4 separate regions of the Homo sapiens genome follow, and all the other regions are reported to be linked to region 1. Evidence: microRNA targets listed by miRTarBase, many of them from high-throughput screens and not tested one by one. Region 1 holds a microRNA gene; each other region holds the end of a gene's coding sequence.
Evidence for each region. Region 1 holds the annotated microRNA hsa-miR-4474-3p (UUGUGGCUGGUCAUGAGGCUAA, at 3,064-3,085, opposite strand). A microRNA usually pairs through its seed, bases 2 to 8, with sites in the 3' UTR of a target mRNA and lowers its output. Matches are read on the target gene's strand: a 7mer-m8 pairs with bases 2 to 8, a 7mer-A1 pairs with bases 2 to 7 and ends in A, and an 8mer does both.

Region 1 (5,000 bases):
TCCATGATGACCTCATCCTAAATTGATCACATCTACAAAAGACACTATTTCCAAATAAGGTCACATTCAAAGGTACCTGGGGTTAGGATTCAACATATATTTGGGAGGATATAACTCAGCCCATAACAGGCATTTAGTGTTTAATATGTTTTTAAAACCCACTGTAAATGATACAGGGAGGCTATGCATGTGTGAGGGGAGAGGGTACACAGGATATTTCTACATCTTCCTCTCAATTTTGCTGTGAACTTCAAACTGCTCTAAAAACATTGTCTTTAAAAAAAACACACACTGAACAATAAATTATTTGACATAAGCTCTGACCTCCTTGAAACAGTCCATTTTTGCTGCAATAACTGTTCTCATAGAGATACCTTCGAAATCATTTGCAGAATTTACCCATGGTCTTATTTCCCCAAAATAGATGCATTCCTTGCAATACAATCAGCTCAGCTTAAGGGTCTACCCTGAGCTGTCCCCTTATTAACAACTGTTAGGTAAAGGTACATGAAGAAAAAAACTTGTATGACTGTTTCTTTTAAGATCTCTATTGTTCTGTCTCCAAATAGGGTGTAAAAATGTAGCATCCTCCTGTAGTCCCAGCTACTCAGAAGGCTGAGGCGAGAGGATTATTTGAGCCTAGGGCTTTGAATCCAGCCTGGACATCATAGCAAGAACCTGTCTCTTAAAAAAAAATGTGGGGGAACAGGTGTTAATGCAGTGACAACTCTAAATCTGCATTCAGAGATGCCTCTTATTCCATCCCTGTCTTCCTTCAATACCACCTAACAGAAAATGGAAAAATGCTTCTCCAAAGAAACATGTTCCAATTATCTATTGATACATAATAAGTCACCATCAAGCTTAGTTTAAAACAGTAATAGCCATTTTACTTTCTCTGAGGGTCAGGAACTCAGAAAGGTTTGATTGTGTGGTTCTAGCTCAGAGTTTCTCATTTGGCTGCACTGAAATGGTGCCTGAAGCAAGAGCGGTGCAGGGCTAGCAGGGCAAAGGTCTGGCTGCTTAATACAGTTGGTCTTCTCAGGGCCCTTGGTCTCTCCTCACAACACAATGGCCTCTGAGCAGCTGGACTGCTTACATGAAGGCTGCAGGTTTCACAACTGAACACCGTATTTCAACAAAGAAAGGAGCATCACCTTTTCTGATCTAGCTTCAGAAATCACATAGCATCATTTCTGCACTACTCTATTGGCTGAAACAGGCACAAAAGCCAACCTAGCTTCAAAAAGAAAAGACAAAGACCCTACCTCTCAAAGACAGAAGTAGCAAAATCAACTGTGAGAAGAGCATGTGGGTGAAAGATAACTTTACGGAAATCTTTGGAAAATTCAATTTGCCCCAGAATATATCCTAGTTCTCCCTGGGGCATCAAGAACTATTGACCACTCAGTTCAAATTAAATTCTAAGGCAAAGCTATACACTGACATGCCCAGGCTCAATATTTTCCCCATTCTTATTTCTCCCAATACTGTTTTCCATCTTGTCTACTACAGTTGAGTATACCCTATTGACTTTGGTCCTCCAGGTGTTCTGTGTTACAAAAACCGAATTCAGAAGTTACTTACCACAGGTCATATAGAGAAACTAATAGCAATCTCTTGATGCACAGCTGCATCATTTTCAACTCCCTCCAGTTCAATGTCTTCTTTAAGTTCAATGCCCAGAAACCTGGGTTACACTCTAGCCCTCCCAATAATTATTAAGAATTGCCTATAATTCAGAGTTTCAAATCATTCTTTCATTAGTTTAAAGTGAATTTCCCATTATAAAACACACAGATACACACACACATGCACACACATGTGCACCACTTTCCTTAGCTAAATATGATTGATTTTTGGATAATTTACCAATTATGGTTCATGGTATCCATTCACTAGTTAAAATGCCTAGGAATTACTATATTTCCCTTTCTACTTCCATAAATCATGATGTCACAAATCTTTATTCAAATATACCATTTCTAGGACACCTCATTTACTTTAAGATTCTCTCATTCTCCATAAAATGTAATGGAAAATAAATTCCACACAATAAATATTGATGGAACACTGAATACATACCAGGCCTTCTGCTATGTGTGAGGTGACGAAGGCAAATAAGACAGTTTCCTTCCCCTCACATAGTTAAGGCATCTAACTATGAAGACAAATTTACCAACAACCATGATTATTACTTACAATATCCAAAGGAGCCCTCATTAAGACCTAGGAGACTCAGTTAAAACCACACCCGGCCGGGCACGGTGGCTCACGCCTGTAATCCCAGCATTTTGGGAGGTCGAGGCGGGTGGATCATGAGGTCAGGAGATCGAGACCATCCTGGCTAACAAGGTGAAACCCCGTCTCTACTAAAAATACAAAAAATTAGCCGGGCGCGGTGGCGGGCGCCTGCAGTCCCAGCTACTTGGGAGGCTGAGGCAGGAGAATGGCGTGAACCCGGGAAGCGGAGCTTGCCGTGAGCCGAGATTGCGCCACTGCAGTCCGCAGTCCGGCCTGGGCGACAGAGCGAGACTCCGTCTCAAAAAAAAAAAAAAAAAAAAAAAAAAAAACCGCACCCAAGAGGTCAGGCGAGGTGGCTCAGACCTGTAATCCCAGCATTTTGAGAAGCCAAAGCAGGCAGATCACCTGAGACCAGGAGTTCGAGACTAGCCTGGCCAATATGGTGAAACCTCGTCTCTACTAAAAATACAAAAATTAGCTGGGGGTGGTGACACACACCTGTAATCCCAGCTACTGGGGAGGCTAAGGCAGGAGATTCACTTGAACATGGGAGGCGGAGGTTGCAGTAAGCCAATATGGTGCCATTGCACTCCAGCCTGGGCAACAAGAGCGAAACTCCATCTCAAAAAAAAAAAAGGGGGGGGGGGGGACTACCTTTTAAGGAAAAGTAGGTAAATATCTGACAATAATAAAACGAAGAGTACTGATTGTTGACAAAGTTAAAATGTAAGCAAAAATTCCAGAGTATACAGAATGCCTGGCTTGACAGGGCACCACAAATGAACCTGACTTGAAGTGTGGTTCCAGGTGCCTACCTTGTTAGCCTCATGACCAGCCACAAAGAGCCATATTTGTGTCTGATCATGAGACTAACAAGGTAGGCAAATGCCAGCCTGTGATGTTCCTTACATAGCACTGTAAGGAGCTGAATTCTACAGGTAATAGCTAGCCACCAAGTATTTTTAAGAGGTGAAAAAACTTGCAGACAACGTGATCTTATACAGTTGCTTGTCTATATCCATGGGTTCCACATCTGTGGATTCAACCAACCACAGATTGAAATATTAGGAGAAAAAATTACATCTGTACTGAACTTTTTTATTGTCATTATTCCCTAAGCAATACAGTATACCAACTATTTATATAACATTTACAATGTATTAGTTATTATAAGTAATCTAGAGATAATGTGTAGTATACAGGAGAATGTGCATAGGTTATATGCAAATACTATGCTATTTTATATCAGAGATTTCAGAATCCATGGGTTTGGGTATCCACAGGAGGTCCTGGAACCAATCCCCTGCAGATACTGAGGAATGACTGTAGACAAACAACCCTAACATCTCCATCAAAAAACTGTTAGAACTAATAAATAAATTCAGTGAAGCTGCAGGAAACAAAATCAACATCATTTTTCAAACATCAGTAGCATCTGTATATGCTAACAATGAGCTATCTGAAAGATAAATTAAGAAAACAATCCATTCACTACAGCAACCAAAAAGAACAGAATGCTTAGGAAAAAATTTAAACCAAGAAGTTGAAAGACCTGTACACCAGAAACTATAAAAGATTGATGAAAAAAACTGAAGACAACACAAATAAGTGGAAAGACATACTGTGTTCACAAGTGGAGAAATTAATAGTGTTAAAATGTCCACACTACCCAAAGTGATCTACAGATTCCCCAATCAAAATTTCAATGACATTTTTTACAGAAATAGAAAAAACAATCCTAAAATTTGTATGGAACCACGAAAGACCCCAAATATCTGAAGTAATCTCAAGCAAAAAGAACAAAGCTAGAGGCATCACACTATCTAACTTCAAAGTATACTACCAAGCTACAGTAATCAATACAGCATGCTGCTGGTATAAAAAGAGACACACAGATCAATGGAATGGAATAGAGGGCCCAGAAATAAATCTACACATATACAGTCAATTGATTTTCAACAAAGGTGCCAAGAATGCACAATGGGGAAAGCACAGCCTCTTCAATAAATGGTGTTAGGAAAACTGGACACCACACACATAAGAATGAAATTCGACCCTTACTTCATACTAAATATAAAAATCAACTCAAAATGGACTAAAGATTCAAATGTAAACCTTGAAACCATAAAAATACTAGAAGAAAACATAGCAGAAATTCTCCATGACATTATTCTGGGTGATGATTCTTTGGATATGACCCCAAAAGCACAGGCAACCAAAAACAAAAACAAAAAAATAGATAACTGGGATTACATCAAACTAAAGAGCTCTGCACAGCAAAGAAAACAATCAACACACTGAAAGACAACCTGCAGCCTGGAAAAAAATATATGCAAACCATGCATCTGATAAAAGACTAATATCCAAAATATATGAGGAACTCAAACAACTCAATAGCAAGAAAATAAATAACCTGATTTTAAAATGGGTGAAGGACTTGAAAAGACATTTCTCAAAAGACGACATACAAATAGGCAACAGGTGTATGAAAAAATGCCCAACATTACTAATCATCAGAGACATGCAAATTAATACCACAATGAGATATCACTTCACACGTGCTAGAATGGCTATTATCGAAAAGATGAAGATAGATTTTTGCAAGGATATAGAGAGCAGAGAAAAAGGATCCACTGTATACTGTTGGTGGGAATGAAAACTAGTATAGCCATTATGGAAAATTTTAAGGTTCCTCAAAAATTAAATTATTGACCTAGCAATTCCAAAACTGTGTATACATCCAAAGGAAACAAAAC
Region 2 (6,230 bases), not on the chromosome of region 1:
CCTACTGAGGCTTACACATTCAAGGCGTTATCGGACCCTGACCAGTGCTCCCAGGTGCCCTGTAACACAGTCTGCTGGCCTCTGGGAGGGCAGTCTCCTAAGTTCTTTATGGGGTCTGAGCAGGGATTGCAGGGATGATGCCTCCAGGAGACCAAGGTGGACCAGGAGCTCCTGCCTTCTGTGAGAACCACCTTGGGCAGTCTTTCCGAGGTGGTGGCAAGAGCCTGGGGCCCAGCCTCCCAGGGTCCCCTCTCCAAGGCCATGGCTTTACTAACATGTAAAGTGACCAAGGCCTTTGTAGTGTCTGAGTGCAGGCACCACAGGCCTGTGTGCTCTGCCTGTCTGGCTTTGGTGGTGGCCAGCCCTGCCTCTGTGAACTCATCTCTCTTTGTTTGGGAGACACTGCCGTGTCCTGGTTCTCATCCTCTGCCCGTGGCCCAGGCCCTTACGTGGCTCTACCAGGAGTCTGTCCTTGGCACTTTCCCATCTCACTTCTACCAAGTCTGTTCTTTCCAGAAGCCAGACTCGTGGGTGAGCCATGTCACCTCGCCGAGCCTCAGTTTTTCCTTCTGTAAAATGGGGTACAGCCTTCATTTAGTGGGGTGAGTAAGCCTCATGTCTCTTCTGCTGGGGCACTGATGTGCTTGGCACCATAAAACTCCCAGAGGCAGGCCGGGCACAGTGGCTCATGCCTGGAATCTCAGCACTTTGGGAGGCTGAGGCAGGCGAATCACCTGAGGTCAGGAGTTCGAGACCAGCCTGGCCAACATGAAGAAACCCCGTCTCTACTAAAAATACAAAATTAGCCGGGCGTGGTGGTGCGCACCTGTAGTCCCAGCTACTCGGGAGACTGAGGCAGGAGAATCACTTGAACCCAGGAGGTGGAGGTTGCAGTGAGCCGAGATCGTGCCATTGCACTCCAGCCTGGACAAAAAGAGCAAAACTCCGTCTCAAAACAAACGAACACTCTCAGACGCCTCGGGAGGGGATGGCTGGGAGGTGAGCCTGCCTGACTTGAGTCTCCACTGCTTTGTCAAGGTGGTGACCAGAAGATGGAGGACTGGCAGGGTCCCCTGGAGAGCCCCATCCTTGCCTTGCCGCTCTACAGGAGCACCCGCCGTCTGAGTGAAGAGGAGTTTGGGGGGTTCAGGATAGGGAATGGGGAGGTCAGAGGACGCAAAGCAGCAGCCATGTAGAATGAACCGTCCAGAGAGCCAAGCACGGCAGAGGACTGCAGGCCATCAGCGTGCACTGTTCGTATTTGGAGTTCATGCAAAATGAGTGTGTTTTAGCTGCTCTTGCCACAAAAAAAAAAAAAAAAAAAAAAGGGTAACTATGAGAGATGGTGGATATGTTAACTTGCTTCGCTATAGGAACCTTTGTGCTATCTATATTATCTATATGAATCCCATCATATCAGGTTGTCTACCTTAAATATACACAAAAACATTTATTTAAAAAAAAGAAAAAAGCCTGCCAGCTGGGATTCTTGGAGTGCTGGTGGCCTTCAGCAAACACAGACACTGTTGGTGTGAGGGCTTCAGGAGGGTCACAGAAATAAGGGGGTCTGTGTGGCCCTGTCCTCGCCTCTCAGGTGCTGTCACATCTCTCTGGGTGTAGGGAGAGGGAGGGGGGCACACTGCGAAAAGGCCCAGCCCCTCCCCCCCACCTGCTCCCCTCTTCCCTGGAGAGGCACCCCACCTCCTGGTGGCCCAGTCCTATGGTTCAACTCTCACGTGGTCCAGCTCACCTGGGTTGACTGTGAGCCCCACCTGGCACACCTGCTGTTGTTAATCTGCACCTGCAACTAGCAAAGGGGGGTCTGGAATTCTTCCGGGTTCAGTCAGCCTGTGATCCCACACCTCTGTCTGTACAACCTCCGCTCCCCACTCCAACACACACAGAGCCTGCCCCAGCCTACCCTGCACCAGACCCTCTGTACCGGTTTTTCTTGGGATGGAGGTAGAGAGGGACGGAGGCGAGAGGGGGCTGAACTGGAACTGGATTAAACTTTGCCATCTGCCTGTCGCCCTGAAAACTTCATTTCTGTTTGCATGCCATATATATATTTTTTTATATGTGGTCTTTTCTTTTTTTTTTTTTTTGAGATGGAGTCTCGCTCTGTCGCAATGGTGCAATCTCGGCTCACTGCAACCTCCGCCTCCCGGGTTCAAGCGATTCTCCTGCCTCAGCCTGCCAAGTAGCTGGGACTACAGGCACGCGCCACCATGCCCAGCTAATTTTTGTATTTTTAGTGGAGACGGGGTTTCACCATGTTGGCCAGGGTGTTCTCGATCTCCTGACCTCGTGATCCGCCTGCTTCAGCCTCCCAAAGTGCTGGAATTACAGGCGTGAGCCACCACGCCCGGCCGATATGTGGTCTTACTCTGTCACCCAGGCTGGGGTGCAAAGGCGTGATCTTGGTTCACTGCAAACTCCGCCTCCTGGGCTCAGACAATTCTCCCACCTCAGCCTCTGGAATAGCTGGGACTGCTAGTAGCTGCCACCACGCCTCGCTAACTTTCGTTTTTGGTTTTGTTTGTTTGTTTGTTTGTTTGTTTGTTTTGTTTGTTTTGAGATGGACTCTTGCTCTGTTGCCCAGGCTGGGGTGTAGTGGCTCGATCTCAGCACACGGCCACCTCTGCCTACCGGTTTCAAGCAATTATCCTGCCTCAGCCTCCCAAGTAGCTGGGATTACAGGCGCTTACCACAACGCCCAGCTAATTTTTTTGTTGTTGTTGTATTTTTAGTAGAGACGGGGTTTCACCATGTTGGCCAGGCTGGTCTCAAACTCCTGACCTCAGGTGATCCAACCGCCTCGGCCTCCCAAAGTGCTGGGATTACAGGTGTGAGCCACTGCGCCCGGCCTTGCACACCATCTTTTTTTTTTTTTTTTTTTTTTTTTTTGACACAGAGTTTTGCTCTTGTTGCCCAGGCTGGAGTGCAATGGCACAATCTCGGCTCACCGCAACCTCCACCTCCCAGGTTCAAGCGATTCTCCTGCCTCAGCCTCCCGAGTAGCTGGGATTACAGGCATGCACCACCACACCAGGCTAATTTTTGTATTTTTAGTAGAGACGGGGTTTCTCCATGTTGGTCAGGCTGGTCTCGAACTCCTGACCTCAGGTGATCCAACCGCCTCGGCCTCCCAAAGTGCTGGGATTACAGGTGTGAGCCACCGCTCCCGGCCTTGCACACCATCTTAAGTGTGACGCCACACTGCCCTTCACAGCCTTGGGGCTCTGCCCAGACCAGGAGGAATGGGGAGGGGGTCTTTGACCCTACCCCAGGCTTAGCCCCAGAGAGGAGGAAAGAGTGGCAGGCCAGGCAGGGAGGGGCTCCAGGGTGTGGCCTGGGTTTTTCAGTGGGATGGGGGAGGGGTTGCTTATGAGCCTGGGTGGGTTCTTGGTAGGTGGTGGGCTTCCTAGAGGAGGCGGTGGGAGGGCAGGGGCAAAGAGGGTGAGCGGTCCTCAGTTCGTCCGTCTTCCCGGGGGACTCTCTGACCCTTTCTGGTCCGTGCTGCGGCCGGCGTGGCCCGGAGACTAGCCCCTCAACCCCGAGGTGGGGTGGACCCGGGTGCTCCGCGGCCACAGCCCCTCCCCGCCTCTAGAAGCGCAGTCCCGCGGCTCGCCCGCCGCTCGCGAGGGCCGCACTTTGCCCTCGGTCCCTAGCGGCGCCTGGCCACGCCCCCGGCGGGTGGAGTCGGGCGGGGCGCCGGGCAGGTTCCTCTGCGTTCCGCGGCGGCGGCAGCGGCGGCGACGGCGACATGGAGAGCGGGGCCTACGGCGCGGCCAAGGCGGGCGGCTCCTTCGACCTGCGGCGCTTCCTGACGCAGCCGCAGGTGGTGGCGCGCGCCGTGTGCTTGGTGAGCCCGGGGAGGGCGGGCCGAGGGCACCCTGGGGACCCCCTCTCCGTCGCCAGGCCCGGCGGGGCCCCTAGCCCACGAGCGCGACAGGTGGCGGCGGCCGCGTCCGGGGCCTGGCGGCGAGCGGGGCCGGCGTCCAGCGTCCCGGGCCCCGCCTTCCCGCCCTCCACAGTCTGTCCCGCTGTCCCCTCCCGGTCCCGGGTCCCGCCACCCACCCCACCCCCAGCCTCGCGCCCCGACGCGGGGTGTCCGGATCTCCGCAGGGAGCGGGCCCCTGCCTCGCTGGCAGTGGGAGGAGTTTGGGGGCGGCTCCCGGACAGGTGGCCCGCACGCCGCGACTCCCAGATTGGGGAGTTCACCGGGACGGGGTTTTCCGAAGCCACGTGGGGTAAGGGAGGGGGCGGGGGGCGACCCAACGCCCGGAAACAGGGTGTCCTTCCCACTCGGGGCAGGCCACGGGTCCGCCTTCCCACCCGAAGTTGAGGGACCCCAAGATGTACCCCCTCCCTGTAAGGTGGGCAATACCTCCAAAACCAGGTTTTGTGTGTGTGTGTGTGTGGCGGGGAGGGGGCCTGTTCTTGGACAGCCAGCCCTGAAAGCTGGAGGGGGTGGCATGAGGGGGCAGGCAGAGGTGGGCCTGCTGTGCCCAGACCATGCCTGGGCCTGGAGCTTCTGAGGTCCTCCAGGGCGCCCACACCAGCTCCCAGCCAGGCTGTGGGATCTGATCGCCTCTGTCCTGGGCTGTGTCCAAGAATCAGGTGCCCAGTGGGTCGGGATGGCAGTGCCAGGAGTCCTGGATGGGCACCCTGCTCCCATCATCCCGGAGATCCGGCTTCATCTCCATCTGGGGGCGGGGCCTGTGACTGCCAGCTCCAGAGCCCTATGGAGAGCTCCCTGGGACAACAGGGCAGGACTGGCAGGGGAGAGTCCTGGGGCCATCCCAGAGGGATCCTGATGCTCACAGACCTGTCCCACACCTGCTGAGGTGGAGCAGGCGTGGGTGGTGGCCTTCAAGTTTAGGGAGGTGGTATGGGGCTCTTCCCAAGGGGCTGGAGCTCCCCTACATCCACCCTGGGTCCTCCAGGTGTCTGAGTTCAGAGCTGTATCCACAGGCCTGAGTTAGTCCCCTTGTAGTGCCCTGTGCATGCAGGGCCCTCTGTGGGGTGGGAGACAGACTGGGAGGGACCAGGATGCCACAGAGGCTGCAAGTCCTTGTGTGGAGACAGCTGGCCAGGCTGAACCAGGGAGGGTTCCAGGGGTTCCAGGAGGTGAAGACACAGGGGCGCCAGCATGGCCTTCCCAAGAGGGCCTGTCCACCTTCACCAAGGTGTTCAGGCAGAGGCTGGGTGCTGTAGAAGTGACTTGGGCTGAAGGTGACGGGGGATGGGTAGTCTTTGTGACTTGGCCTGTCTTGGTTAAACCTCTTTCAAGGTGAGGTTGGGCTGGGGATGGAAGGACTGCCCTTCATCCATCAGGTACCTAAGCAGAATGATTCCTGCAGCAGGCCGATGGGGCAGGAGCAGCCCCTGCCTAGGAGGTCCCTGCCCATTCCCCACCCCTCCCCGGTCCAGGATTCCCAGGGGCAGGCCCCCTGGTGCCTGCAGATTCTCATCCTGGGGTGCATCAGGAAGCACTTTGCTCATCAGCTCACCTCCACAAGTTTGGAGGGGCTAAGATGTCAGCCTCCAAAAGGGGACAGCAGGCTGGGCGAGGTGGCTCATGCCTGTAATCCCAGCACTTTGGGAGGCCGAGGAGGGTGGATCACCTGAGGTCAGGAGTTCCAGACCAGCCTGGCCAACATGGTGAAACCCTATCTCTACTAAAAATACGGGTGTGGTGGAGGGCACCTGTAATCCCAGCTACTAGGGAGGCTGAGGCAGAATTGCTTGAACCCAGGAGGCAGAGGATGCAGTGAGCCGAGATCGCACTATTGCACTCCAGCCTGGGCAACAAGAGCAAGACTCCATCTCAAACAACAACAAAAACCCAAAAGGGGACAGCAGTAGTGGGAGAGGCCAGCATCTGTACACCCCATCAGGGTCCCCGCTGTGTGTGCCCCTCAGGCGGCCACCAGCCCTACCAGGTCCTCCCCTCCCGGCAGGTCTTCGCCTTGATCGTGTTCTCCTGCATCTATGGTGAGGGCTACAGCAATGCCCACGAGTCTAAGCAGATGTACTGCGTGTTCAACCGCAACGAGGATGCCTGCCGCTATGGCAGTGCCATCGGGGTGCTGGCCTTCCTGGCCTCGGCCTTCTTCTTGGTGGTCGACGCGTATTTCCCCCAGATCAGCAACGCCACTGACCGCAAGTACCTGGTCATTGGTGACCTGCTCTTCTCAGGTATCTGCCTGTGGCACCTCCATTTG
Region 3 (6,230 bases), not on the chromosome of region 1:
TTCTCATTTTGGGCTGTGGTTCCACGCTTAAGAGTGGGGCCCTCGCTGGGGACCCATCCTCTTCTGCTCAGAATTTTCCTGCCTCCTGTCCCTATCATTATGATGGGATATGATTCCTGGAACTCCTTTCTCGTGGCCATGAATGGAGCCAGCTCTTGAGGGTAAAGTGAGCACACTACAGATAGCAGACAAGAGCAAAGAACATTATAGAGTCACTGCATCAAATAACTTGTATACTGCACTATTGCTGGGCTCTGTTTTTGGTGGCAGAATAAATTTCCTTATTTTTTTTTCAAAAAAGCCTATCACCTTGTGAGATATGCTTATATTCACTTCACAGCTGAGAAAATTGGCATAGAGATACTAATTGCATAACTTGTAATACACAATGTTGGCAAAGATGTGGGAAAATTGTTGGTGGGATTATTGATTCAGGAATTCCACTTCCAGGTATTTGTTCTAATTACATAAGTGTAGCTTTGGTCATAAATTTTATATAAGATTTTTTGTGACATTTAAAATAGCAAAAAGCAAATCTAAATGTCCGACGATAGACAACATGTTGAATTAAAGCCATTGAAATATGCAGAATTGTGTTTATTGGCATAGATGCTTATGATATATTGTTAATTGAAAAAGCAGGTAACAAATTAATATACAGTATTATGTTAATTATGTAAAAAAAGTATACATATTCATAGAAAAAGTTTGGAACAATCTCAGATATCATCTGTAGGCTATTTCTGTTTGAAAATAACCAAATAGATTTTTGGGTTGACTCAACAAATTATGGTTGAGTCAGTCTTACTTTCCTATTTTATAAATGTTTTTTACATCATTGGGTATTTAATCATTTTAAAAATCTACTCAGGCATCATTTGTATAATAGTAATAATAATTTAATCCCCCTTATTTCTCATGTCTCATGCCTTATCCATCATCCCTCATATCCTACTCTTAGCCCAGATTTTCCTTGACAGCTTTATTTTCTTGGAGGGCAGGTATGGGGAACCAAATTTGTTTCCTTACCCTAGCTCTAGCCATTTCCACAAAAGCTTTTATAGATAATGTCCATTTTGCTTATTATTTTTAGTTTAACCAATACTTAATATGTGCCCACAGCTCACTACCTAGGCCCTGATTTAGGCATTAGGAATAAAAACTATCTCGACTTAGTTAAAACCACCAGATGCATTGCTTGAAAACCTGTTCTGCCACTTAATAGCTGTGTGATTTGAGCAGGTTACTTAACCTCTCCATTTGAAAGCAAACATTTATTGGGCTCCTGTTACACATTAGGACTGGAGATACAGTATTAAAACAAGTACCTGTTCATGAAACTTACATTCTAATGGGAAAAGATCATTGATTAATATACAACAGGTAGTGATAAGTGCTATGAAAATAATGCACTTATAAAAAGAATAAAGAATGACAGCAGATGGGGTATGAATGTGGGGGCATATGGCCTATTTTAGAAAGCATAGTCAGGGAATGTGTCTCTCATCAGATGATATTTGAGGAGAGACCTGCAGGAAGTGAGCCAGCCAGCCATGAGGTTGTGTATGGACAAGAGTTGCAGGAAGAGGCAGTGGTGTGCTGGTGCTGGCTTGCATTTGTTCTGATGGCATGCATCTCTTCCCAAACTCTGTATTCAGTGAAGGCAAATTAGTGGCTCAAAAATAGCCTTGATGAGAGTATTTACACATAGATACCTGCAAATGCTACAAATGAGGGTTTTCTCCCCCGTCCCGGAGAACTATTTGTTAAATATTTTACCAGCACACCCCTGGGAAGAGGAAGAATAAGGACAGAGGCCCTGAGGCAGGAGCAGGCTTGTTCTGTTGAGGAAGTCAAGGCAGTCAGGATGGTGGAACAGAATGAGAGGGAAATTGACAGGAGATGAGGTCAGAGGTAGCTAGGAGCAAGATCAGTAGGCCAGGTAAATACGTTGGACTTTGGTCTACGTGAAATGGGGGCCATTGAAAGGTTTTAAACAGACGAGTGAAGTGACACTGTCTGACTTAAGCTTTGAACAGGACCGCAGAAGAGAGGAATCCAGAAGACCAGTTGGGAGACTTGAGCAAAATTGTAGGAAAGAGGTAACAGGCCAGGTGCAGTGGTTCATGCCTGTAATCCCAGCACTTTGGGAGGCGGAGGCAGGTGGATCACTTGAGGTCAGGAGTTCAAGACCAGCCTGGCCAACATGGCGAAACCCCATCTCTACTTAGCCAGGTGTAGTGGCACACACCTGTAATCCCAGCTACTTGGAAGGCTAAGGCATGACAATCGCTTGAACCCAAGAGGCAGAGGTTGCAGTGAGCCAAGATTGCACCACTGCACTGCAGCCTGGGCAACAAGAGCAAAACTCTGTCTCAAAAAAAAAAAAAAGTAATAATGGCTTAGGGGTAGAGGTAGTAAGAAAAGCACGTTGATTTCTTCATTTTTTTCAGAGATTGTGAAGATTAAATAACATTTAAAACATGCTTAGCCTAAGGTCTTTCATACAGGAGGCCCTTAATAAATGGTAGCTGTCATATCGTATTATTATTGACAGAAGGCCCATACTGGAGTTGGGGAGGGTTGTTCATATCTAATTAAGAAGGCAAGTAATTTTAGTACAAGTGGTAAGTGCTATGTTTGAAACAAGTGGGAACGCTGAGGAGAAACACTTAGCCCAGCTAGGGTAGGAAGGTCCAGGAAGGGTGTTAGAGCAAAAGGGACAGCTTTAGCAAAGGCATGGGGATGGGGAATTAGAAGGAAAGTGGAACTGCTTAAAGTGTCCACACCTCCCGATTCAGGTGATAATAAGATCACAGCTTCATCCTTAGCATTATTAGCAAAATAATCCGTGATCTAAAGCAACAGCGATGATTTTATTACTCTATGTGTTAAGTAAATCACCTAGCAGGCTGGGGAGGGTGATGTTCCAATTCCAGTTCACTTGGTAACTTTATGTATTACACAGAGCCTTTGATTCTGATCAGCCAGATCTAAAAATGTAAGCTGGTAAGAAATGTTTAAAACTTGCTATGGAGAAAGGAGTTCTTAATCTGGGGCCCAAGCATGGCCTTTGGGAGGTCTGTGAACCCTTTGAAGATACTTGCAGAATTGTGTGTGTGCACATGAATTTTGGGGGTAGAAGCGGGACACAGGGAGTGTTCATAGCTTTTATCAGATTCCCAAAGAGTTTTGCAGCCCAGAGAATATTTAAAACACTGCTACTGAGATGAATATTAGAGGGTAAAGTAAAATCAGTCTAGAAGGACAGGCATGTTTTTGTCTGCCATTCCATCTATCATTAAAATAATTTGATTAAATCATATTCTAAATCACATGAAATCAGTTAAAACATTTCACTTAAAAGTGATTACTTATAAAAAGGCTTTTGTCACTTTTATTCAAATATGAACTGTCATTTTGGGCCCAGTGAATATTCATTCCAACTTAAAATTTCAGCTGTGCCAAACTCTGGGATGGTAAATGAGCTATAGTATAATCAAAAGTGCTTCCAGGCCAAATTCGCTCTGTTTATCATGCTGGGATCAAACCTCCTATTCTTCCTTTTGAAAATGTTCTCTGACTCTGATTTTGTTGTTTAGTTTTTATTGATTCCCTACAATCCCCTCATGTTATTCTGCCAAGTCTCCAAAATGACAAATATTCCCTAAGGCTTCTTCAAAGCCAAAGAAAAAGGAATGTTTACTGAAATTTTATTTTTAAAGGAGGATTAATAGAATTTAACTTTCTGGCTATCTTTTGGAGACTCATGTGATTCAGAAATTTGCCGCCTTCTAGTCACACATAGATGGTGAAAATTTACTCACCTGACTACTTCTGTCTGCCAATGGGAAATGGGCTGTTAATAGTTTCCATTTCTTCAATGCTATGGTCCAAACGCCTTGTTAAGTGCATTATGTATATTATCTCACTGAATCCTTGCAACACCTACTGAGATAGAGATTTGATTTTCATTTTATAGATACTCAACCTAGGCTCTGAGATATTAGATTACTATCTTGCCCAAGATCACACAGCCAGTGAACAGCAGAACCAATAGGTAGAAAAATGGAAAGTAAGATGTCCCATGAAGGACGAGCGAGCTGCCCAAAGAAAAGCACCCCTTTTCCTTGTACTATTGCCATTTTTCATTGTGTGGCATTTTTCAGTGCTGCTGTATCAGGCATTGTGTCAGAACAATGGATGAGAAAAATATCTAGGAATTGATGATTGAAAAGGGTTGTGGGAAATGAATTCATCTAGTTAATTAAACTATCTCAATATCTTTTAAGAATGGTGACGGAGGAAATCAGAGTTAAATTTGAGTACTTACCATGAGCAAAGCATTAATGTGAGGTGCTTTACTTACATTACTGCAATGAATTCTCCTATTAAGGGTCCTGAGGAAGGCATTTACTATCCCTGTTTTACACATAGGGAAGCAGAGGCTCAGAGGAGTTGCGAGAGTTTCCCAAAGTTACATAGATAGGAAGATGGTATGATACGACCAGGATCAGCCTTCTACTATATCATATGTAAAATTTGCTTCAAAAGCTATTTACTAAAATTTAAACTATGTGGGGGCCAGCCATCATATCATTAAATTCTCTATACTCCTCAGAACATAATATAGTACCTGGTACCTAGTAGGTACTCAAGATAATGTTTCTAGGTTGATCACCCATCACAGTGGGTTAAAAAATGGAATATCAAAGGCACAAAGATGTATCTTATTTCCAAATACTAAAAAAGAACTACCTTCACATTCCTTACAGGTTATACTGTTCCTTAGAAGACTTATAGAAAATCTTTTTAATAACCCCCTATGTATAGTTCAGAGGTTAAAAACCTGTACATATTATACAAAGTTTCCAATAAATGCACCTTGTGTATTATAACTGCATGGTACTGACATCTTCAAGATGGGAACCATGAATAGATTTGTCTAGGTAGGGGAGAAACAGCTTGGTATTTTAGAAATACGTATGATATACAACATAGTCAAAATGCAACAACTCCAAATCACTGGAAGGTGTATTAGAAAATACTCAGGCACATGTGTAAATGCTTTAACATGGCCTGGCCCTCTTCATGGTCCATCTGTGTATTTTTTGGTTTGTGGCTGACACCTCCTGCCTCAACACACCCAATCTTCTTAAGTGTGTCCAGAGTTGTAAAGGGCTGTCTGTCAAGGCTTTCCTGATGATGGTGTTGCTCTAATATTCCAGTGTCACCGTCTTGGTTTTGAGATATTCATTTAGAGCTTCCTCACCTAGGGAAGAGAAAAGCAGTTGACAGACCACATTCAGAGGCAGACATGTGATGTCTTCAGACCTTCAGACATAGGTATACGTAGGTGTCCAGGTCACTAAGTAAATAGAATGTGGCCTAAGCCAGTGCTTCTCACACTTTGAAGTTCATACTAACCATCTGAAGACTCTGTTAAGTTGCAGATCCTGATCTGATTAAGTCTGGTGTGGGCCCAGAGGTTTTGTGTTGCTAACCATTCCCTGATGATGCTGATGCTAGTGGTCCATGGACCACACTTTGAATAGTAACAGCCCAGACCAGCTACCAGGCCTTCTAAGGAGCAGAGAGTGTTGCCTGGTCAGCTTCAAACCAAAACCCTTCTCTTTTATTTCCCTACTTGATGACAGACTCTGCCTTTTTGTCCATTTAAACTAAACAGAAGTAACCAGGATACTGTCCTCTGGATTATATTAATTAAAGCAGAACTGAGCACAGGAAAGTTTGAAATCATTTGGTTTAACCTTATTTTAAAGATAAGGAAAATTCAGTTTATATTGTTTGTTAGAAACACAGGGAAACCTGTCTAGGCAAAAATAAATAGGTCTGCCTTTCTTTGACTGTTTCTATTTTGAGCCAGTACTGTCATCAATCTCTACAGAGGTTAAAGGGCACTGAATACCATGGGAAAACTAATGAGTGCGTGATTCTGGAAGCTGAGCTAAAACAAGGGCTGTCAACTTTGTCCGCATGTTAGAATCACTCAGGGAGCTTTTAAGACTCCTGACCCCACATCACACCCCAGATCAATTAGATCAGTATCTGTATTTTTTGAAGCTCCCAGGTGATTTGAATCCACTGTGCAGCTAAGGTTGACAACCACTGGGCTAAGGGGTTTTAAAATTGGGGGAGGAAGAAACTATTAGAAAAACTGTAGTATTTTATAGTAAAACAGACCTGGAGCTGGTCAAATACACTCTCTC
Region 4 (6,230 bases), not on the chromosome of region 1:
ATTGAGTGGGGAGTACTTGATGGAGCAGCCAGAGGCTTGGTTCTCAGCTCCAGTGGCTTTGCCTGCTGGATACAGGAACAGGCTGAGGTCTGTTTTCTTTGCCGTCTCCCTTTAGTTCTTGGGTGGGGGTAACGCCCATGGGGTTCTGGGTCTGGAGTCCTCTCAGGGTATTTCAGAGCAATGGAAGATTCTTCTTATTTCCCCTTCTCACTTGAGCAAGGAGTCGTCTTCGCTGTTTAACAGAGAACAGGAAACTCTTAATATTCCAGAGCCATTTTGTTCAGTGGGCCAGTCCTGGCCCTAGGCCCCGGTGTTGCCTGTCTGGGGAAAAGCTTATCTGGGTAAGCAAGGACAAGGAGATGATGGTCCCAAGCAGAGCCACTGCCCTGCCAAACATGTTGGGCCACTAAAGCTAGTCCATGCCAAGCCTTGTCCCTGGTGAGGCTGTGTCCTGGAGGAAAGGTGCCTATGGAAAGCAGCAGCCCAGGTCCATTTGAGTTCAGAGGTAGGGGATATGAGCAGACTGGTTGGGCAGAGGGCAGCTAACAGCAGTAACCCTTCCCTGCCCTCCCCAGGCCTGTACCTTAGTATTTGGCATGCCTAAGTGGCTCCATTCTGAGAGCAGAGCTGGCCCCCCGGGCCCCTCAGCTCTTAGGATTCTGGCAGTGGCAAAGGGCCCACACCTACTAGCCCTCTCCTTCCCTCCATCCCCAAGCTTCAGCTATCTGCTTATTAGCTACAATCCACTGGCTCTCTTCAGGGATGAATGGGTCACTGAAGTCACAGAGGTGAGAGGCAAAGGAGGTGACAAGCAATAGGGCAGAGGCGGCTCAGGTGAGTGGCTGCACACAGGTCTATTCCTCTCCCTCCACTAACAGCAAGCCCAAAGTTCTAAGACCTTGCCTTAACTTACAGCCGAGTCTGCATCCCCATTAAGCTGTCCCTCCGTGAAGCACCATTTGGGGTAACTCTGGTCACAGGTGTCCTGAAAGGTGCTGACAATCACTCATGGCACCTAAGTAGGTGAGTCAGTGGAATGCAGCAACAGAATTTACTATCTTATGGTTCTTTGCAGTTTATCTTTTCAAGTTTCTCCTATGAGGTTCTCAGGTCGGTTCTGTGAACACAGGGCGGGCATCATCCCTGTGTTATAGTTGAGAAAATGGGGGCTCTGGTAGCTAAGGCTCTCGTACAAGGTGATGGGAGAGGAATCTCCCTCACCAGGTCTCACCTGTCTCCACCTGAAGCAAGATGCCCTTTCTCTTTCCCCTGGCAACAGAAAAATGCAATGTAGAATATAATCTTATACATACAGGGGCTACGGTAGCAAGTGGTAGGGAACGGGGGAAGAGGCTGCAAGAAAGCTACAAGAGGCTTGGCCTCTTGGGACAGCTGTCTGGAGTGGGGTTGGGCGAGACTAGGCAAAGCTAGGCAGCCTTGGCCTCAAGCTTCAGTGGGGTTGAGAAGTGGTGTGTGGGAGCAAGAAGCTGGGCCTAGAACGAGGAGTTTTAATCTGCCCTTAAAATCCAGCCTCTGGCCTCTCCCATCAGAGGCTTGATGTTGAGGCGGGTGGACAAATGCATCCATTAGGTGTTTTAATAAATAATTACATTTGAATGGTGATATCCAATCCAGAAGCCTGGTACAAATGAAGCCTGGTGAAAACACCCAAAAGATAGACAGCAGAGTTCCTCCCTCACACGCTGTTAGTCCTCTCCCTGTCTCCTCCTGCAAGGTGCCCATTGCCACTAGGGTCTTCGTGTGCATCCAGGGATGGTCTATGCCTATCTTCACAAAGATTCTGCACCCACCCCTTTTTACCCATATGTGAGCAGCTGTCAACTCTGCTCCTTGCTTTTTCTCTTACTATGTATTTTGAAGACCATTTTATTCCAAAACACAGCTTTATGGGCTGGTTTTTTTTCCCCCCTTTGACTGCAGAGTGGTCCACCAAATAGATGCATCAAAATTTGCTTAACTAGTTAGGTTCCCTTTTGACACCTATTTGGGTTGCTATCTTTGACAGTGTTGCAATGAATTCCTTGTACATACTCGTGAGTATACCTCAAATAATTCTGAGTAGAACTGCTTTGTCACAGAGTGGCTCTCAGTCGTACCTAACATGGAAATTACATTTATGGACACACGGACCTTTCCCTATTCATGCCAAAACCTACTTTGGAAATACATAGAGATGGGGTTTCTCCTTTGCCTTCCTGCATACCCCTATACCTGTTCTGACCTTCCCCCACAACCTCAACTCTGAAACTTGTCACTTCCTTCTACGTTTACTGGAGTCTCAAGTGGTGGAATGGATATTATACAGAATTCCACATAGGAGGCTGCGATAAAAGAAAAAGGAAGAACTGCCCTGACAGCCCCTGCAGCCCCATCATTTCATAATTTCACTTTGGTGGGTGATCTGCTCAAGGCAAGGAAAGGCAGGTTCTCACTTAATAGAACTGCAGATCAACTTAGCATTTTTGCTTTATAAACAAAACAGCACAATTCACATCTTTTTATTATAGCAACCAAGAGTTAAAGAGTGTGTTTATCTTAAGATCTTTCATTATTAAGGATTCAGATCATCAGATTTCAAAGCCTCATGTCTGTAAGATCTGCTCCAACATAGAAAAGCTTCCTTCTTTGGTTCAATGGTGGTTGCTGCAATGGGATCAAATGTCTTAACTCTCAAGGCTGTCTCATAACTACAGCACAACTGAAAAAAGAACACTCAGGCTGGAAAGCCCTCCTATTCTCAACGGCCATGTTCATTTTGTCATTTTCACCTCCTGTACCCGGAAATGCAAGTGGGCAGCATTCCTTTTAGGCCTTTTCCTCCCCACCACTACTTCTCTTATTGAAAACTTGACCTCACTTTCTTCACCACTATTTACAGGAAAGGTTAGGTACCTTGCCAGCATCCCATGCACCTCCCTCTCCAGGTTAACCATTATTCTGATTTCTATAGTCATCTAATCATCTCCTTGCTCCATCTGTGGATATTTTCCTTAAAATAGCTTGTCCCTTTTTTTAATTGATGATCAATGGAGTTCTAAAGCATGCATCTGTAACTTGCTTTTGTTCAGTGTTATGTGAGATAGATATATGCATACTATACTGACACCCACATCACTGAAGCTGTAGTTTTTCACTGCACTGTCTCGTGTGAACAGAGATTGTTGGACACATGGGCGTCCAGTGTAGACTGTCAGCGTTGTGCCCTACCAAGCCTTACTGGCGCTTGAGGCAAAAGAAAAATCAGTACTACTGCCTTTATTTAAAATCTTGATATTTTGTTGGGTCATGGATGTTTTTCTGTATTGTTTTATTCCAACGGCTGTTTCACACCTTTATGAAAAAGTTGCTCTCCTCCCACTCGGATCTCCAACGCTGTCTCTGAAGAGTCTTTAAATGCCTGTGTATTATTCTGTATTAATCTGTATTTATATCCCTATTCCTGTAACAGGGTTAACTAACTTTAGCTTTGTATTAAGTAGTTAGGCCTTGACAGCTGCTAGAGCAAGTGCTATTTTTCCTAAGCGTCTTGGCTATTATTCACCCTTGGTACTTCCAGAGCCACCTTGTTGAACTGGATTAACTCTCACATTAAGTTTTTAAACTTCAAAAATAAAATACAATGAATTAGCAAAGCTCTGAAAACATTCTCTGGTTTTAAAAAGTTGTTCTTTCTGTAATTGAAACACCGTGCGGTGGCTCTTTATGTTAAAAGCTGAATTCACTGAAGATCTTCACGGTGTTAACCTACCAATAGCCCTAGGCTTCTTGAAATACTGGCTGGTTTGGTTTATCACACATGAGACAGAACCTGAGACCTACCACATCATCAGCTATGTGAATGTTTCTTTTCAAACCCTAATTACATTTTAGACCACAATGAATTCATTTTTGCAAAGCAAGGGCATTCACAAAAAGGCCTCCCCAGATGAAGCTGATTTTTAACGAAAAAGAACTGAATGTATGTTTTTCTCATAATTAATAGTCACTATCAATCATCATCAAAATAAAAACAGTAAATCAGAAAGAGCTCTCCCTAAAGACAAAACACTTCTTTCTTTTACTTTTTAAAAGACCAAAACACAAGTCTTAACAAACAGGTCTACCTGAAGAGATGAGATGAACTAAGCTTGTCAGACCTACCACCGGGATGATAGGATCATCTGGCAGGTACTGTGGAAGGCTCATTCTGGTTCTGATTATGTTCAGATAAACATCAACACTTAAACCTATTTAATTTATTTAATTATTATTAGTTCAAAGTCCAGTTGAAGGAATTCCCCTCTCCCAATGAGTCACACTTGGGTGAAGGTGATTCAAATCCAAATCCAGGTAGGGGTAGTTACTATTTATTTCATTACTTTAATGGAATCAAATCATCTGAGGGGGATTGGGGTAGAGATAGATAGATGGATAGTCTGCTTGGCTTTCTCCCACCAAAGCCCAGAACTAATCACAATGTGCAAGGCTGAAACACTTTTTTAGGGGTCCAGCGTAATCCAGGGCCAAATGCTAAAGAAACTTGGCAAATTGCATCTAGAGAAGTAGGGCCCTCTCTATCGCTACAACAAATTACTTCACTATGTATCTATCTATCTCAGGATAAAGTTCAGGATAAAGTTGAGTTGGATAAACTTACTTACCACCCTCACAAACCATTTATTAATGACAAGAAAAAAAGAAAGAGTGACACAATCGAATGAATTAAAAGTTTAATTCTGAACCATTTTTTATAACCGCATTTTCTCTTGAAGCATCGTATCACAGCAGGTTACAACAACTTTGGGATAAAAGGCAACTGGTAAACTGTCCAAAACAAGGTTCCAAATAACACCTCTTACTGATTTACCCTACCCATACATATCCCAAATAGTTTTTGATCAAAAACATGAAATAGATCCACCTGCTTATTTTAAGCATATTAAAAAGGAAACTAATTGGACCATTTTCTATTTGTCTATTTTATACAAAAAGGCTACACAATTGTTACACTTTATTCAGATTACAATTAATTAGAGTGATTATGAATTAGTGTTCTACACCATTACTCAATTCTTAAAAATTAGAAATTGCTGTAGCAGTATTCACTATAACTTAACACTACGAGAGACTTAAAAAACAGTTACTGCAAAAAAAAAAAAAAAAAAAAAAAAAGAGCTACTTCAAAGCAAGCAAAGTCAGTACCATTACAGATATTCTTAAAAAAAAAAAAAAAAAAATTTAACAAGCAAGGCTAGGGTTTGATAAATTCCATCTTGTGATCCATTCTTGTGCATTCTTCACTTCTTGAGTCACTCCCAAAATCCATTTGTATTGTTACTCCTCGACCAAAAAGGACCAGAACAAAAAGTTTACTTCAATTGTTCCCATAGGAAACTCAGCTTGGTTAGTGTGTCAGGCACTTTCTGAGATACCAGCCCACCCCTCGAGCCCTCTCAGCAACTCTACAGGCCAATCACAATGCAAGTTCAGACAATACAGCTGTATAAAGAGAGAAAGGCTGCTATTAATGTTTAAAACAGCAAATGTTACTCATTTGAGTATTAAGTTGCAAAAGCTGTGGCAAAAAACATTAAAGTTAATAACTTCCACACATGATCACATAACAACCAGAAATCTGAGAACATTCCAATGTTCCAAGACATCTCCTTTCAAAGTATATACCTGTTTTTGTGGCAGATTTACAAATAGCCTAAACCACTCCCACCCTACCAACCAAGTCTTTCTGAAGTTCTGTAGGCAGAGTAAAAGTATTTTACCCAAACTGGCTTTTTAAAACTTCTTACCTAAAGGATGATTTACAGGTCAGTATCAAACCAGGCCAGCTGATTGCTGTCACCTGGAGGCAGCCCATCCATGAGGTCCTGGGCATGCCCCAGATCTGGCAGCCCATCAACTGGATAGTCAGCACCAGGGTGGTGGCCACCCATCTCATGTTCCATCATGGGGTCCATACCCAAGGCATCCTGGCCATATCCACCAGAGTGAAAAGAACGATAGCTAGGATCTAGAAGAGTCAGGGTGTCAACAAAATAGGCAAGAAGGAAGGCAAAAGAGAGAGGAGAGAAGCAGACATAGACGTTAACACTGAGGTTAGGGCATCCAAAGTTCAGCAGCAAACTTGTCAGAAAACAACGCTTTCTAGCCTCTTCAACCTCCAGCTTTCTTTAGCCAAGTAATTACTCAGTGCCAGGCCACCCATGAGACTACAC

Region 2: miRTarBase lists C17orf99 as a target of hsa-miR-4474-3p. Seed matches in the 3' UTR shown: 7mer-A1 at 1,301-1,307.
Region 3: the mRNA of ALDH1L2 is a reported target of hsa-miR-4474-3p. Seed matches in the 3' UTR shown: 8mer at 5,117-5,124.
Region 4: the mRNA of CTNNB1 is a reported target of hsa-miR-4474-3p. Seed matches in the 3' UTR shown: 7mer-A1 at 5,689-5,695.

Annotation. Positions count from the first base shown.
Region 1 is chr9:20,499,214-20,504,213 of GRCh38, forward strand. MIR4474 (microRNA 4474) reads right to left here and starts at 3,129; the gene lies at 3,052-3,129. All of the region lies in intron 2 of MLLT3 (MLLT3 super elongation complex subunit), which reads right to left.
Region 2 is chr17:78,164,851-78,171,080 of GRCh38, forward strand. It overlaps C17orf99 (chromosome 17 open reading frame 99), which reads left to right. Exons shown (of 5, transcript NM_001163075.2): 5 at 1,039-1,447. The coding sequence ends at 1,196. It overlaps SYNGR2 (synaptogyrin 2), which reads left to right and starts at 3,731. Exons shown (of 4, transcript NM_004710.7): 1 at 3,731-3,865; 2 at 5,967-6,204. The coding sequence starts at 3,767. RefSeq lists silencers at 3,394-4,003, 4,034-4,193.
Region 3 is chr12:105,019,208-105,025,437 of GRCh38, forward strand. ALDH1L2 (aldehyde dehydrogenase 1 family member L2) reads right to left here. Exons shown (of 23, transcript NM_001034173.4): 23 at 583-5,272. The coding sequence ends at 5,217. Among named protein-coding and RNA genes, the nearest start is that of NOPCHAP1, 36 kb to the left of the region's middle.
Region 4 is chr3:41,238,929-41,245,158 of GRCh38, reverse strand. CTNNB1 (catenin beta 1) reads right to left here. Exons shown (of 15, transcript NM_001904.4): 15 at 4,716-6,025. The coding sequence ends at 5,817. Among named protein-coding and RNA genes, the nearest start is that of CTNNB1, 43 kb to the right of the region's middle.